2 separate regions of the Homo sapiens genome follow, and region 1 is linked to region 2. The links come from fine-mapping of genetic effects on gene expression. Tissue or cell type: whole blood. Region 2 holds a variant in brackets; the other region holds the start of a gene. All regions are shown on one strand. Distances are from middle to middle.

The links. PIP is the estimated chance that this variant, and not a neighbour inherited with it, causes the effect.
Region 1: it holds the start of PTPN20, and the variant in region 2 is fine-mapped to the expression of PTPN20 in whole blood (TOPMed, PIP above 0.99). The same link has a PIP of 0.9 or more in lung.

The regions. Positions count from the first base shown.
Region 1 is chr10:46,908,484-46,916,676 of GRCh38, forward strand. PTPN20 (protein tyrosine phosphatase non-receptor type 20) reads left to right here and starts at 2,945. Exons shown (of 11, transcript NM_001042357.5): 1 at 2,945-3,018.
Region 2 is chr10:46,990,442-46,998,634 of GRCh38, forward strand. All of the region lies in intron 9 of PTPN20 (protein tyrosine phosphatase non-receptor type 20), which reads left to right. Among named protein-coding and RNA genes, the nearest start is that of PTPN20, 83 kb to the left of the region's middle. The variant C/T (reference allele first, on the strand shown) is at 4,135.

The sequences.
Region 1 (8,193 bases), 82 kb before region 2:
GTGTTAGGAGGTGGGACCTTCGGGAGGTGAAAGGACCATGAGGACTCTGTCCTTCTGGGTGAGATTAATGCTATTAGAAGAGGGTGAGTTTGCCTTCCTTTTTCCTATTTGCTCTCTGCCTTCTGCCACATGAGGACACAATGTTCCTCTCCTCTGGAGGATGCAGCAAGAAGACTCACACCAGATGCTGGCACCTGATCTTGGACTTCCCATTCTCCAGAACTGTGAGAAAAAAATGTTTTGTTCTTTACAAATTATCCAGGCTCAGGAATTCTGTTATAGCAGCACAAAACAGACTAAGACACCCAGGGATTAGCATTGAGCCTCGGACCATGCAGGAAATAAGGAGGCGGTGTCTGGGGGCTGTGGTGCAGCAGGCAGGGGACAACCAAGCGACTTCCCAGCCCTGTTGGAAAGTGGATCTGGAGGGATGGACTAAAAGAGGCAGAACTGAGGCCTGGGCTGGAGGACCTGAGAGTGAAACTGGGCCTGCACTGGGGAGTGAGGAGGACCTGAAGCTGCAATGGGAAGCCCTGTGTGGCTGAATCCTAGAACCATGAGGAGAGGCAACATTAGCAACTAGATCTCTGGCCTCTGCTTTTGGAATCACTTTTGGATTCACTTTTGGATGAGTGGTGCATGAACTCATCCAGACTGATGTGTGAAGGGCATCCAGGCTTACCCCTGAAGTATGGAGACTGCAGTGGGTCTGTTGCTCACAGAGGAACTCCCAGAAACTCTGGGAGAGTCACAGACCTAGAGAAGCGTATGGCTCAAACCTCTTGAGCAAGAAAAGCAGTGTTCACTGCCAGGCGTGGTGATGAATGCTTCTGTTTTTTGTCTCATTAAACACTTGCAACTGTGTCTCCTTTTTTAAAAAAAGGAAAACTGAGACACAAGTTGGGAAGTAACCTGCCAAAGGTCACCAACTATTCAGTAGCAAAGCAGGGACTTAAGGCCAGGCTTGCAAAGCTCCTAGTGCTACTGGTAATTGGTAAGACTCAAGGGTTTAAAGAGGCCTCCAAAGAAGGGTAGTAAACTGTGATGGGCCCTAAACTTTATAGTTCTTCGAATTTTTCACAGGTAAAAGGACAGAAAGCCAAGAAGAGCCTTCTGGGTCACTGGCTTCTGGGAATATTGTGTGGTCAAGCAGGAAGTCTGGGGGAGATGGAATGACACCTCAGGGTCCACTCTTACCAACTGTTCATTTAGCCTCCATGCAAGGATTTCCTGGTGATGTGAATGGGGGTTATTCCCTCTGTGTGTCTTGGAGCAGCCATGCTGCTCATGTTTGTGAAATGATGACCAGTGCAGAATCTTGATGTTAGGCACTATGAAGAAACATTAGACATGGGGTCCATCTTTAAAGGGGAATCTTACCCTGGTGATATAGTTTGGATATTTGTCCCATCTAAATCTAATGTTGGGCTGGGTGCGTTGGCTCATGCCTGTAATCCCAGCACTTTGGGAGGCTGAGGCGGGCGGATCACCTGAGGTCAGGTGTTCAAGACCAGCCTGGCCAACACAGTGAAACCTCGTCTCTACTAAAAATACAAAAATTAGCCAGGCATGGTGGCATGCTCCTGTAGTCCCAGCTACTGGGGAGGCTGAGGCAGGAGAATCACTTGAACTGGGGAGGTGGAGATTACAGTGAGCTGAGATCACGCCACTGCACTCCAGCCTGGGCGACAGAGCGAGACTCCATCTCAAAATAAATAAATAAATAAATAAAATCTAGTGTTGAAATTTGATCCCCAATGTTGGAGGTGGGGCCTGGTGGGAAGTGTCTGGGTCATGTGGGTAGATCCTTTATGAATGACTTGGTGCTAGTCTCATGGAACTGAGTGAGTTCTTAGTCTTTGTTTTCATGAGAACTGGTCATGGAAAAGAGCCTGGCACCTCCCACCTCTCTCTCTTCCTCTGTCTTGCACACATTGGCTCTCCTTTGTCTTCTGCCATGAGTGGAAGCTTCCTGAGGCCCTCATCAAAAGCGGGTGGTGGTGCCATGTTTCTTTTACAGCCTGTGAAACTGTGAAACTAACAAACCTCTTTTCTTTATAAATTACCCAGCCTCAGGTATTGCTTTATAGCAACACAAACAAACTAAGACATATGGCAATGGCGTGGGTTGCTTGCAGGGTACCTTGGCTGCTACAGAAAGAAAAAGTCTCTGTAGAGACTCACTGTCAGTGACTCACGGAGCAGAAGGCTGGCCTCAGAGCCTGGACAGAGGGTAGCTGTCACTGCTTAACTGCAGTTCAGCTCAAGCATATGGCTCTCTGTGGGACCAGCACTGAAGGCTGGGGGATAAGTGAGGCAGGTCTTGTCACACCTTCAGGGTATCTGGATTCACCAAAGTGGCTCAGGTCAGGACCAATGAATAGAGGTTTGTTCGTCAAGATAAAAAGATTCTGGCTTCCTGTTTTCAGGCAATGCCAACGATTGAATTCCCTCTACATTGACCACCCTTGCTGAAGTTGTCTTAATTGACCTAGCAGCCAACTGACCTCATATTCTGGCACAGGCTCTGACTCCTTTTGCCTATCTGCCCTGCTCTGATACTACAAAGAGACCCCCCCACCCCAGCCCTCTGGGGCCTCATTAGGGGCTTAGAGGGCAGGCGTGGGTCAGGCGAGCATTCCTGGAGAACACAGTCCTCAGTGGTTCAGGATATGAGCATAGCTCAGAGAGCTGTTGACATTATCAGCCTGGCCTGGGAGAGGGGGACCCGCACAGGGTGGTGCACAGGGCCCGCAGGGAATTTACAGCGGCGTCCGCGGCGATGGGCTCTCAGTGCCTTGGAAGACCGGTAGAGGCAGGTTCTGTCTCTCCCGGCCTGGCAAGCAGAGGGCCGCGGCGCAGGGCAGAGTGCCGCGGCGCAGGGCAAAGCTCCAGTGCGCAGGCTCGCGGGCGCAGGTGGGATTGGATAGCGACGAAGGCCGGCAGGCTAGGCGTGGACCCAACTGGCGAGGCTGCTGGGGTTGCAGCGGGACAGTTGGGGCGGCCCCGCAGGCCCAGGTGAGGAAAGGTGGCTGGGGGCCAGGTGGGCAGGGGGCGTGCGGGAGGCCGCTGCGCCGGGCTGTGGGAGGGCGGGCGTGAAGAAGGAAGATGCCGTTGACGTGCAGGGGTCACAAGGCGTGGGTTGTGGCCCTGGCCCGGGAGACTGCCCGGGTGGGCCTGAGCTGTGAAGTAGTGTCGCTGCAGCCAGAGGGCAGGACGTGATTCTGGCCGTGTGATGCCAGCTGCACTGTGACGCGTGTTGGGGCGCCTATGCGAGACGGGACCGGGACAGGAACCCTGTGGCTCTGTGGTAGGGGAATGCCACCAACTCCCTGAGGAGCAGCCGTGTGGTATGATTGGTAAGAAGCCATCATCAGGCGCTGAGACAGCCCAGAACTTCCCAATGACTCAAGGGCGGGTGGAGGTCGAGGGACCTAGAAAGAAAGAACATGAATTCATCAATCCATTCAGCAGCTATTTTGAACGCCTCCTGTGTGCCAGATGCTGTTCTAGAAGCTCAGAATATCTATGAACGCGATAGGCAATGCCCCCATATGCCAAGGCCCTCATATGCTAGCCTTGACTCAAGGAAAACTGTAGGATGGGGTAGGTTTCATTTTTGGAAGTTGTGGAATCAGTACTTATGTTTTGAATGTGTTAGGTTTGAGATGCCCAGTAGGTTTTTCCCAATAGAAGACATAAGCATAGCTGGGAAGAATTTTGCAGAGGACTCTGACCACCTACCACCTACAGGTGCCATGAATATTTAGCACATTTGATTTTTCACATTACCTATTCACCTTCTCTCCATTTATCAGTCACCTGGTAGTTTTTTTTAGTATGGTGAAATATACACACATAAATTATCTAGTAGATATTTGGGTTGAGATATCAAATGTGCTTTTTAGAAATTTAAATCTGAAGTTCTGGAGGATGTCGGGCTAGAGTTAACCTTTGGAATCGGCATCATATACTGTACATAGTATTTAAAATATATGGGACTGGTGAAGACATCTAGTTTAATAGTGTACACAAAGAAGAGGAGGCGAAGCCAAAAAAGGGAGGGAGGTAGTGGTCAACCATGTTGAATGTTACCGTATAAGATGACTTTGGTAATTAGGAGGATTTTAATCATTTTGACAAGAACAACTTTAATGGGGAAGAGGGGCCTTAAGGTTGGGTAGAGTTTTTTTCAAGATAGAAGAAAGCAGAATGTTTATATGGCAATGTGATTAAACTCGTAGAAAGGAAAAACTGCTGCAGATGAAAGAGGGGAACATTGTAAAGGGTAGTTGTTGAATACCTGAGAAAGGAGAAGACCCTAAGCAGGTGAGTAGTTGGTTTTGAAATGAGCAGGGACACTTACTCTGTTGTAACTAGAGGGGAAGCTGAGATAACAGGTGCAGATACAGTGGGTGGTGGGAAAAGAGTCTATTGGTATAGGCATCCATCAGCTTAGAGGGAGGGCAGCGGGGGAGAGGAAAGGTGTGGGAACTTGGAGGAGAGATATGTGACAGAGTCCTAGAGAGGGTGAAAGTGAGCGTACTAGAGAAATAGAGTTGGATTCCCAGGCAGTGCTCAGGGCCCATTTGAGACGTGTAGTCTTACATTTAAAGTGATATAAACCAGTGTGGTTGTTTCATGTTCAACTTTGGAAGGGTGTTGTGAGGATTAAAGAAGGTAATGCATGAAAAACATTTAATAGAGTGTCAGGCGTTTAATGAATGTTAACGCTTTTTATTTGAGCCCTCGTTTTGTTTTTCTTTTCTGTTTATACATATGTGACTGAGGATGGCTGGCAATTACCACTTGACAGGCTGTTCTGGGGCATGTTCTCCCATCACAGAGAACTGCAGTTTGCAGCTACTCAGAAGTCTGGTTCCTGTTGTGTTTACATGTACACAGCTTGATAATTGAAGATGTTTGCTTTTTAGAGCCATTGTCCTGGACTGTTTGGGCTGGGGTTTGTCACAGTGACAGTCCTTAAGTTTTTGTGAAAATCTTTTATGACTGCATTTCATATTGGATCTGATGTACTGGTAATCTACAGAATCTACAAATCTAAGATTGGCAGGAAAATTTTCAGTTTAATAGATTTTCATTTCTCCCTGACCACTTGAGCTGTTTTAAAATACAAATAATAATAATGGCTGACAGAAAGCTCTTAAAAGTGCCAAGTACTTTTCTAAGCACATCACATGCCTAATCTTGTTTAATCATCACCTCAGCTCTACAAGGCAGGTACAATTATTATCCTGATTTTTCAGATGCAAAAATAGGCTCCAAGAGGTTAAGTAATTTGCCCAAGGTACCCATACCCTGACCTCCAGTTTCTACTGCAGACAATAACTTTTTCTTTTTTTTTAAACTGCTTGGCCATCACTCATCTGCATTGCAGTGGAGTACTTAAGATGTTGGACTCCAAAGCCAGATTGCCTGGTTTCAGAAAACTGCCACTTAGTAGCTATGGGACTTTGGGTAAATCATCTAACTTCTGTGTGCCTTTGTTTCTTTTTTGACAAAATGGAAATAATAATAGTACCTGCCTGATAGGGCTATTATCATCGCAGTTGAGAATCACATGAGTTAATATATTTAATATGCCTAATATAGTGCCTGGTTGTTTAAATGCTACTATTATCACCTGCCTGGTAGTACCACCATGGTGCTGTATATACTGATTGGTTTGATCTATCAAAATAAGATTCCAAGTGTCCTGTTATTGTCTAAGCAGAGTTTTAAAATTGCAGCCCACTATATTATTCCCACCTCAGGGATCACTCCTGTTTCCTCTGAGTTTATCTCTCTGAGGGAAACAAATAGATAACAGTTTGCTTCCAGGAGCAGACAACAACTCAGATTTCATTCAGACTCATTTGACCAATAGAGTTCATTTCATTAATCCTGGCATTACATACCACTTAGCAAAGGGGAATAAGGCTTGGGGAGTAATGTGATTCCATGTTGCTTTTCCCAGATCAGCAGCCCATTTAGAGGAATTTGGTTAGAAATACCAACGGACTACATAGCCAGTATTTGGCACAGCATAGGGTAGGTGATGTGGGTCAGTGGGCTGGACATAAAAGTGTTCTGAAAAGATCTGTAAAGTCATTGGAGTTACTGTGATGTGTTGTGTCAGTTACTGATTAAAAGTAACTGGCAGGCTTGGCATTTGAGACCACTGAAAGTTTTAAATGATCTTTCTGATATACAACACGTAGAGTAAATGTATGATACAAAGTAGTGGTTCTCAGTGAGTTTGCATCAGAATCACCAGTGGGGAGTTTTATGAAGATTTGCACAATGACAGGCTCCACTTCCACAGATTCTGAATCAGTAAGTCTCGGTAGGGTTCTGGAATCAATCAACTTTTTTAAGAGCTCCCCAAGTGACTGTGATGTGCAGTTAGCATGGCATATCGTTAGTACAAATCAGTGCTTTTAAGCCCTGACTGTGTTTTACAATTACCTTTCTATCAGCTTTTTTAAAAAATACTGATATTCTGGAGCCACCCCAGGGATTCTGATTTAATTTGGCCTGGTGAGTTCTGGACATACGTGTGTTTCTTTAAAAAAATTTCTGAGATGATTCTAATGTACAGCTAGGTTTGAGATTCACTGGCATAGTCAGCTAGATTTCCCGCCATAGTTTATTTACTCTTGAAAATTTAAACATAGCTTCAGGCAGCATCTTACCACCAGGAAAGTGGAAAAATGAGCATTTCTGAATTTCCTCAATGTAAATGTTCAATAAAATAATCAGCTAACAATGAAAAATGTGAATTGCTGGTAGAATTAGCATTTCTTACCCTAAGCTATGAAGATTTGATCAAGTTTCCCTTGGGGATGAGAATTTACATTTCCTGAGAGCCTTATATAGAATCTCAATATTTCAGCAACTCTGGGAGGTACATATATTTCCCATGTTGTAGATGAGAATTTTGAGGCTAAGGGAGGTTAAGTAGCTTGCACACTCAGTTGTGTACATTTCCAAGGTCTAGGTTCCATTTTTTCAGTGATTCTCAACTTTGAGTGCACACTGGGATCACCTGGGAACTTTAAAATTACCAGTGCTTGGCTGGGTGTGGTGGCTTACGCCTGTAATCCCAGCACTTTGGGAGGCTGAGGCGGGCGGATCACGAAGTCAAGAGATCAAGACCATCCTGGCCAGCATGGTGAAGCCCCATTTCTACTAAAAATACAAAAATTAGCTGGGCGTGGTGGCATGCACCTGTAGTTCCAGTTACTTGGGAGGCTGAGGCAGGAGAATCACTGGAATCTGGGAGGTGGGGGTTGTAGTGAGCCAAGATGGCACCACTGCACTCCAGCGTGGCAACAGAGCAAGACTCCGTCTAAAAAAAAAAAAAAAAATGACCAGTGCTGGTGTTCCATTCTCAGAGATTCAGATTTTGTTGGTCTGGTGTGGCCTGGAATTGGGATTTTGCAAAGCTCTCCAGCTAATTCTAATGTGCAGCTGAAATTGGGAATCATGCATTACAACATGCAGCTTCCTGGTGGTCTAAATTAATTTTCTCTTAACGCTCCTCTGTAGATGGCTGTGACTGGGTTCCTTGCCTTCATATATTCACTTATAGATGTCTTAGTGTCTTTTCTTTCCACCCCTTCCTCACTTTTAATAAATATGTAAAGATTGCCAGACACTGTTCTTGGTGCCAGAATGACACAGTGATGACAGGACAGACCAAGTTGCCAGCCTCATAGTACTTATATTGGGGAAGATAGACAATAAACATGTGAGAAGATATATATGGACTTACATGGGTAAGCAAACTTTAAGGTAATAAAAAGTGGTTTTGGGAAAAATAAAGCAAGATGATGAGTAGAGATCCCAGCAGCAATGCATGAGATTCCATTTGCTCCACATCCTCACCAGAATCACTTTGTATTGGACTGTGTGTGTGTGCTTGATTTTAGCATTTCTAGTAGGTATGTAGCAGTATTTCGTATGGTTTTCCTTTGCATTTTTATGTTGACCAGTTGTCTTAATCATGTTTTCATATATTTATTTGCCATCTATGTTTCTTCTTTGGTGAAGTATCTGTTCACATCTTTTGACTATTTAAAATTGGGTCGTCCTCTTTTTGAGTTATAAGGGTCTATATATTTAGGATATAGGTCCTTCCTCAGATGTGTGTTTTGCAAATATCTTCTCCCAGACTGGGACTTGACTTTG
Region 2 (8,193 bases):
TGATTTTGGTTATTTGTTTTCTTCTGCTAGTTTGGGATTGATTCGTTCTTTTTTTCTAGTTTCTCTAGGTGAGACATCAGGTTGTTCATTTAAGATCTTCCTAACTTCTTTGATGTAGGCATTTAGCACTATAAACTATACTCTTAGCACTGCTTTAGCTGCATCCCAAAGATTTTGATTTGTTTTGTCTCTGTTTTCATTAATTTCAAAGAATTTTTTTGATTTCTGAATTCATTTGTTTACCCAAAAGTCATTTAGGAGCAAGTTGTTTAATTTCCAAGTAATTGTGTAGTTTTGGGAGATCTTCTTGGTAGTAATTTCTGTTTTTATTGTACTGTGGTCTGAGAGTATGCTTGAGATGATTTCAGTGTTTTTAATCTTTTTCAGATTTGCTTTATGGCTGAGCATATAGTCGATCTTAGAGTATATTCCATGTGCAGATAAGAAGACTGTATATCCTATGGTTTTGGAGTGGACTAGTCTGTAGATATTTATTGAGTCCAATTGGTCAAGTGTTGAATTTAAGACCAGAATTTCTTTATTAATTAATTTTTCGCTTTGATGATCTCTCTAATCCTGCCAGTTGGGTGTTGAAGGCTCCCAATATTATTGTGTGACTAAGTCTTTTCATAGGTCCAGAAGAACTTGTTTTATGAATCCGGGTGCTCCAATGTTAGCTGTGTGTATATTTAAGATAGTTAACTCTTCTTTTTGAATTTTTCCCTTTGTCACTGTGTAATGCCCTACTTTGTCCTTTTAGATCATTGTTGGTTTAAAGTCTGTTTTATCTGATATAAGAATAGTGACCCCTGCTTTCCTTTTGTTTTCCATTTGCATGATAGATCTTTCTCCATCCCTTTACTTTGAGCCTGTGGGTGTTCTTACATGTGAGATGGGTCTCTTGAAGACAGAATATGGTTGGGCCTTATTTTTTTAATCCATTTTGCCATCCTAAGCCTTTTAAGTTGGGTATTTAGACCATTTGCCTTCAAGGTTTATATCAATATGTGAGATTTTGATGCTGTCATCACATTGTTGGCTGGTTGCTTTGTAGATTTGATTGTGTATCTCCTTTATGGTGTCTGTGGGCCATGTACTTGTGTTTTTGTGGTGCCAGGTACTGTTCTTTCATTTCCACATTTAGCACTTCCTTAAGGACTTCTTGTAAGACTGGTCTAGTGCTCATGAATTTCCTTAGCTTTGATTGTCTGAAAAGGATTTTATTTCTCCTTTGCTTATGAAGCTTTCTTTGGAAGAATATCAAATTATTGTTTGGAGTTTATTTTATTTAATAATGCTGAAAATAGGTCCACAGTTTCTTCTCACTTGTAAGTTTCTGCTGAGAGGTCTACTCCTAGCCTGATGGGATTTCCTTTGTAAGTAAGCTGACCTTTCTCTCTAGCTGCCTTTAAGATTTTTTCTTTTGCATTGACCTTGGTGAATCTGTTAACTATATGTCTTGAGGATGGTCATCTTGTATGGTATCTCACAGGACTTTGCTGAATTTCTTAAATTTGCCTATTGACTTCTCTAGTGAGATTGGGAAAAGTTTTGCGCACTATATTTTCAAATATGTTTTCCAAGTTGTTTACTCTTCTTCTCTTTCAGAAATGCCAGTGAGTCATAGGTTTGGTCTCTTTACATAATCTCTTATTTCTTGGAGGTTTTGTTCATTTTCAATTTTTTTTTTTTTTTTTTTGAGACAGAGTCTTGGTCTGTCGCCCAGGCTGGAGTGCAGTGGCGTGATCTCAGCTCACTACATCCTCCACCTCTCAGGTTCAAGCAATTTTCATGCCTCAGCCTCCTGAGTAACTGGGACTACAAGCGCGTGCCACCAAGCCTCACTAGTTTTTGTATTTTTAGTAGAGATGGGGTTTCACCATGTTGGCCAGGCAGGTCTCAAACTCCTGGCCCCAAGAGATCCTCCCACCTCAGCCTCCCAAAGTGCTGGGATCATAGGCATGAGCCACCACCCCTGGCCCGAAATTCTTTTTTCTTTATTTTTGTCTGACTGAATTGATTTGAAGGACCAATCTTTGAGCTCTGAGATTCTTTCCTCATCTTGGTCTATTCCGTTGTTAATGCTTCCAACTGTATTATGAAATTTCTGTAGTGAATTTTTCAATTCCAGAAGGTCAGTTTGTTTGTTTCTTAAAATGGCTTTGTCAACTTTTTAACTCTTGGATCATTTTACCAAATTCCTTGGATTAGGTTTCAGCTGTCTCCTGAATCTCATTAAGCTTCCTTACCACCCAGATTCTGAGTTCTATGTTTGTCATTTCAGCCATCTCAATTTAGTTAAGAACAATTTCTGGCGAGCTAGTACAATTGTTTGGAGATAAGGAGGCACTGACTTTTTGAATTGCCAAAGTTCTTGCATTAAATCTTTCTCTTCTGAGAGGGCACGTGTTCTTTTATCTTGTTGAATTTGCTATCATTTCGATGAGGCTTTTTGTTTTTATATTCTTTGTATCCCTTGTGGGTTTGACTGTAGCATAAGCTGAGTATAGTCAGTTGGCTTTATTTCTGGGTGCTTTCAGAGGGCCAACACTCTGTATGGGATATTTATTAATACTTGTGGCTAGATTCTGGCACTGGATTTCACAGGCAGTGTATACTGGAAGAGTTTGGGGTGTTGTAATTTAGGCTTCAATCCAGTAGATGGTGCTTGAGAATAATGGCCGGCAAATAGACTCTCAGTCACATGGCTCTTTTGTATTCCAGCACATTTGCAGCAGTGGGGGTGGTGGGAAGGGGTAGCGATGATCCCCTGCCAGGTCCATTTCCAGGCCTTAGGGGAGCCCCCTCCAGTCACTGGCACCATGCCCACATCTCTTTAACCCCAAGGGGAACCCTGGCAGCCTGTGCTCTCTCCTCCCTTGGGGCAGCTCGAGCCAAAGATTAGGTCACCAGGAGATCCACAGCACACTGGAGGCCTGCTGATCCTCTGTGCTTGGGAGTCAGAGCTAATTGTGCAGTAGACCTACAGATGGTTTGTTGATGCAGTAGGTCAGGGGTGTGAGATCTCCAGGCAGGGCGGTGTTGCCGTGGGTGTATAGCTGATGTGGCACCCATAGCCTAGGGTTTTCTGCCCAGCAGACAGCTGTGGGGACTTCCCAGTTCTTTTTGCCTTGAGTGGATCTCAATAAGCTATTTTAAAGAAGTGACAACTTATCTTAGATCACAAAGTAAAGAATAGAAACAAAGAAAAAATTTTAAAAAAATTCTCTATGCTTTAACTCCATCCCCACCACATTTCAACTGCTTATTATCTAAATTTGTGTATTTTTATATTACCTTTCTCTTAATAGGTTGCTGTAGCTATTACGGCTTTTTATGAGTTTATCTTTCAGCTTCATACCAGAGTTAGGCATGGATTGCACACCATCATTACAATAATAGAGTATTCTGGTTTTGTCCATGTTGTTAATGTTACCAGTGGATTTTATGCCTTGAAAAGTTTTCTTTTTGAATGTGTATGTGGTTTTTTGTATTTTTTTATTTTCCTTCTGAAGAACTCGCTTTAGCATTTCTTGTAAGTCAGGTCTGCTGCTGTTGAATCCTCAGATTTTGTTTATCTGAAAAATACTTTATCACTCCTTCATATTTAAAAGTACCTTTGCTGAATATAGTGTTCTTGGATAACAGGTTTTTTTTTTCTTTCAACACTTTGAAAATTTATCCCACTTCCTCCTGGCCTATATGATTTCTGTTGAGAGTCAATTGTCAGATGAATTGGAGCTCTTTTATATGTTAATTACTTCTTTTCTCCTGCTACTTTTTAGGATCCTCTCTTTATCCTTGAGCTTTGAGAGTTTTATTATTTTATGCTTTGGTGTAGCCTTATTTGGGTTGAATATGTTTGGTGTTCTCTGATGCTCTTTTTTTTTTTTTTTTTTTTTTTTGAGACGGAGTCTCGCTCTGTGGCCCAGGCGGGAGTGCAGTGGCGCAATCTCGGCTCACTGCAAGCTCCGCCGCCTCCCAGGTTCACGCCATTCTCCTGCCTCAGCCTCCCAAGTAGCTGGGACTACAGGCGCCCGCCATCACGCCCGGCTAATTTTTTTGTATTTTTTTAGTAGAGACGGGGTTTCACCGTGTTAGCCAGGATGGTCTCGATCTCCTGACCTCGTGATC[C/T]GCCCGCCTCGGCCTCCCAAAGTGCTGGGATTACAAGCGTGAGCCACCGCGCCCGGCCCTGATGCTCTTATACCTGAATATTTATATCTGTTGCATTTTGGAAAGTTTTGTTATTATTTCTTTGAATAAGCTTCCTACCCCTTGCTCTTGTTCAACTCCCTCTTGAACACCAGTAATTTTTGGATTTGGTCTTTTGAGGTAATTGTCTATATTTGGTGATGATCTTCATTCTTTTTTATTCTTTTTCCACCTATGACTGCATTTTCAAGTAGCCGGTTTTCAAGCTCCCTGATTCTTTCCTCTGCTTGATTCATTCTGCTATTGTGAGGCTGTAATGAATTTTTCAGTTCAGCTAATATATTTCTCAGCTCCAAGATTTCTATTTGATTTTTAAATTATTTCAATCTCTTTGTTAAGTTTGTCTAATAAATTTTTGAATTGGTGTTCTGTTACCTTGGAGATCTCTGAGTTTCCTCAAAGCTATTAATACTAGTTTGAATTTTTGATCAGGGAGCTCTTATATGGCTATCTCATGAGGGTCAGTCACTGGTTCCTTGCTTTATCCATTTGGGGAGGTCATGGTTTTGTGTTGACTGCAGTTTCTTCTGGATGTGCAAGAAATATATATCTTGTATTGATGTCTTTGAATGAAGGATTAGTTATTTATTCCAGTGTTCTCTGTCTGGCTTATTTTTGTTTTTTATTGAATGTATTTGGTTATAGATTCTATGTAATTTACCTGTCGAATTTTTTTTTTCTTTTTTTTTTTTTTTTTTTTGGTGAGGGGCTAAGTTGCTGCCTTCTTTTTGGCACTAGATGTCACCTTACGACCAAGTTTGCCTTGGCTCCAGTAAACAATAAGAGAGCTGCTCATTCCAATTAGGGAAAGTCTCAAAGGAGATATCATGGCAGTGTGGGAAAGGTGGCTAGAGATTCATGCCCAGGGGTCCTGTGCAATGTATCTTCTGCAATGTGGTGCTACTAAACAACCACTCTGGTTTGGCATCTCCTTTAGCTGAGTTACAGACCAGAGTTTCCAGGGCTGGGGATGGTAGTCCCACCTCACCTGTTTGTTTCTGACTCTTCTCAGGGTATTTCTTTCTTCAGGCACATGTAGTGCTTCCTGTGGGTTGAGGTAGGGACAGGTTTCCTGCCAGGTAACCCAGATGGTGGGAAACCTGGATGTCACCTTTTCTGGTATAGAAATCATGAATCAGGTGGAGATTTTTTGCACTCTTGGTGCTGGGCAAATTGGAGAAATGGGCATTGCAGATGTGGAAACCCAATTCTCTTACTGCCTACTTAGAGTTTTTTTCCCATCTCTGTGGATCCAGGAACTGTCTTCTCCTCGTATTTGATTTCTGGGATATTGTTGGTGATAATTTCAGTGCTGTATATTTGGTTTTGGTTTTCTTTGTAAAGAAGTGAAGCCAGCTTGCTTCTACACTGTTATTTTGGAACCAGAAGTCCTCTCTTGTCTTTTTAATCTAATTCTCTTTAAGATAATTATTTTATCTTTGAATTAATTATTTTTTATGTAAATTACAAATAAGTCTTAATGGTTCCTTTGCTTTGTTAACCAGTACATCTTTGGAAATAACACAAGTGTAGTTTTAGAGCTTCACAATCAATAATGACTATAAAACTCAATATATGAGGAATCATAACTCCAAGTGAAAATTATATAACTCTTTGTCTTCATTTCATTGCAGTCACTTCCATCTTCATTATTTGGTTAACCACTACAGCCACATTTGGAAAGCTGTGTCTTTTCTTAACTGAACAGTCCAGTCATGCTTGTTTTATAGTCAGTAAACTGATTAAAAATTAGTAATTCAAATGTATTTCCATAATTTGCCTAATCTTAAATTATAATTAAAAAAATGCTTTTAAAGAAGTTACAGTTTTTAATTCTGATGAGATTGTATTTTATTAGTTTTTCCTTTTATGGATCATGTTTTGATATCAAGTCTAACAGCTCATCACTTAGCTGAGGGCCTGAATAATTTTTTTGTGTTCTTTTATGAAAATTCTGTAAGTTCATATTTGACATTTAAGTCCATAGTCCATTTTGAGTTAATAAATTATTAAATTTAGGTGAAGATTCATTTTTTGGCCTATTGATGGCTAGTTGTTTCAATATCATTTATTGAAAATTCTGTTATTCCTCTATTGAATTATTGTTGTACCTTTGTCAAAAATTATTGGGCATATTTGTATGGGCCTATTTCTGGTTCCGTATTCTGTTCTATTGATTAGTGTGTCTATCCTTCTGCCGGTACCACCCTTTGGATTATTGTAGTGATATAGTAAGCTTTAACATCAGATAGAATGATTCCTCCCACGTTATTCTCCTTTTTCAAAATTGTTTGAGCTATCCTAGGGTCTGTGCTTTCTCTAATAAATTTTAGAATTAGTTTGGCTACATCTACACAAAACTTGCTGGGATTTGGATGGAAATTACTTTAAATCTGTAGTTTAATTGGAGAGAGCTGATATCTTTACTGTATTGAATCTTCCAATCCATGAACATGGTAAGTGTATTTATTTAGGTCTTTTTTGAATTCTTGCATCAGCATTTTGTCATTTTCAGTGTATAGATCTTGTATATGTTTTGTTAAATTTACCCTATTCATTTTCTTTGGAGCAATTGTAAATGGTATTGTGTTTGTACTTTCAGTTTCCACATATTCATTGCTAGTACGTAGAAATTTAATTGATTTTCATTTGTTGATCTTGTACCCTGTGATCTTGTTGAAATTACTTATTAGCTCTTAGAGGTTTTGTAGGTTTTTTTTTTTTTAGATTCTTTAGTGTGTTCTACATAGACAGTCATGCCATGTGCATATAGATTTGTCTCTTCCTTTTTGATCTGTATACAATCTGTATACATCCTACTTATTTTCTGGTCTTATTGCTGTACTAAAATGTCAAGTGCTATATTGAATAAGAGTGGTGAGAGCAGGCGTTGTTGCCATCACTGATCTCAGAGGGAAAGCAAACTAAAATTTTATGTTTTGTGAAAGACCCAATGAAGAGGATAAAAAAAAAAAAACAAGCTAGAGAGTAACTATATGCAGGGCACATATCCAACAAAGGCCTTGGATCTAGAATTTATAAGGAACCCTCAAAAATCAATAGTTAAAAAAAAAAGAAAAACAGAAATGGGTAAAAGACATGAACAGACAGTTCACCAAAGAGAACATACAGATGACAAGCACGTGAAAAGATGCTCAGCTTCATTAGCCCTTGGGGAAATGCTAATTAAAACCAGGATGGAGTAGCATTACACACCTATCAGAAAGGCTTATGTAAAAATAGTGACAGCACCCCATGCTGATGAAGATTTGGAAATGCTGGTGAGGATTTGGAGAATTATGTGAAGATTTGGAGAAACTGTATTGCTCATACATTACCCATATGTATGAGACATTGGGAATGTAGACTGGTACCAGCCACTACGGAAAACAATTGAGCAGTTTCTTGGAAAGAAAACAAAAACAAAACTAACTAAAGTTGACATATAACCCAGCAATAGCACTCTTGGGGCATTTATCCCAGATTAATCAAAATTTATGTTCATACAGAAACCTGTATGTAAATGTTCATAGCAGATTATATTCACAGTAGCCAAAAACCAGAACAACCCAGATGTCCTTCAACAAATTGATGGTTAAATAAAGTGGCACATATCCACATCATGGAATATTATTTAGCAATAAAAGGAAGCAAACTATTGTTACACCAACAACTTGGATGGATCTCCAAGTTATTCTGGGTGGGAAAAAAGTCAATCACAAAAGGTTAGCTATTGTGCAATTTTATTCATATAGTGAATTTTGCTATTTCTTCTTGAAATAGCAAAAGCATAGAGAAGGAGAACAGATTACTATTTTCCAAGGGTTAGAGATTGGGGTGGATGAGTGTGACTCTATAGGGATAGCAGGAGGAAGTCTTGTGGTGGAACAGCTCTGTATCTGGACTGTGGTTATAGTTACATGAATCTTCACATATGATATAATTGCATGGAGCTCTGTGCATGCACACATGCACACATAC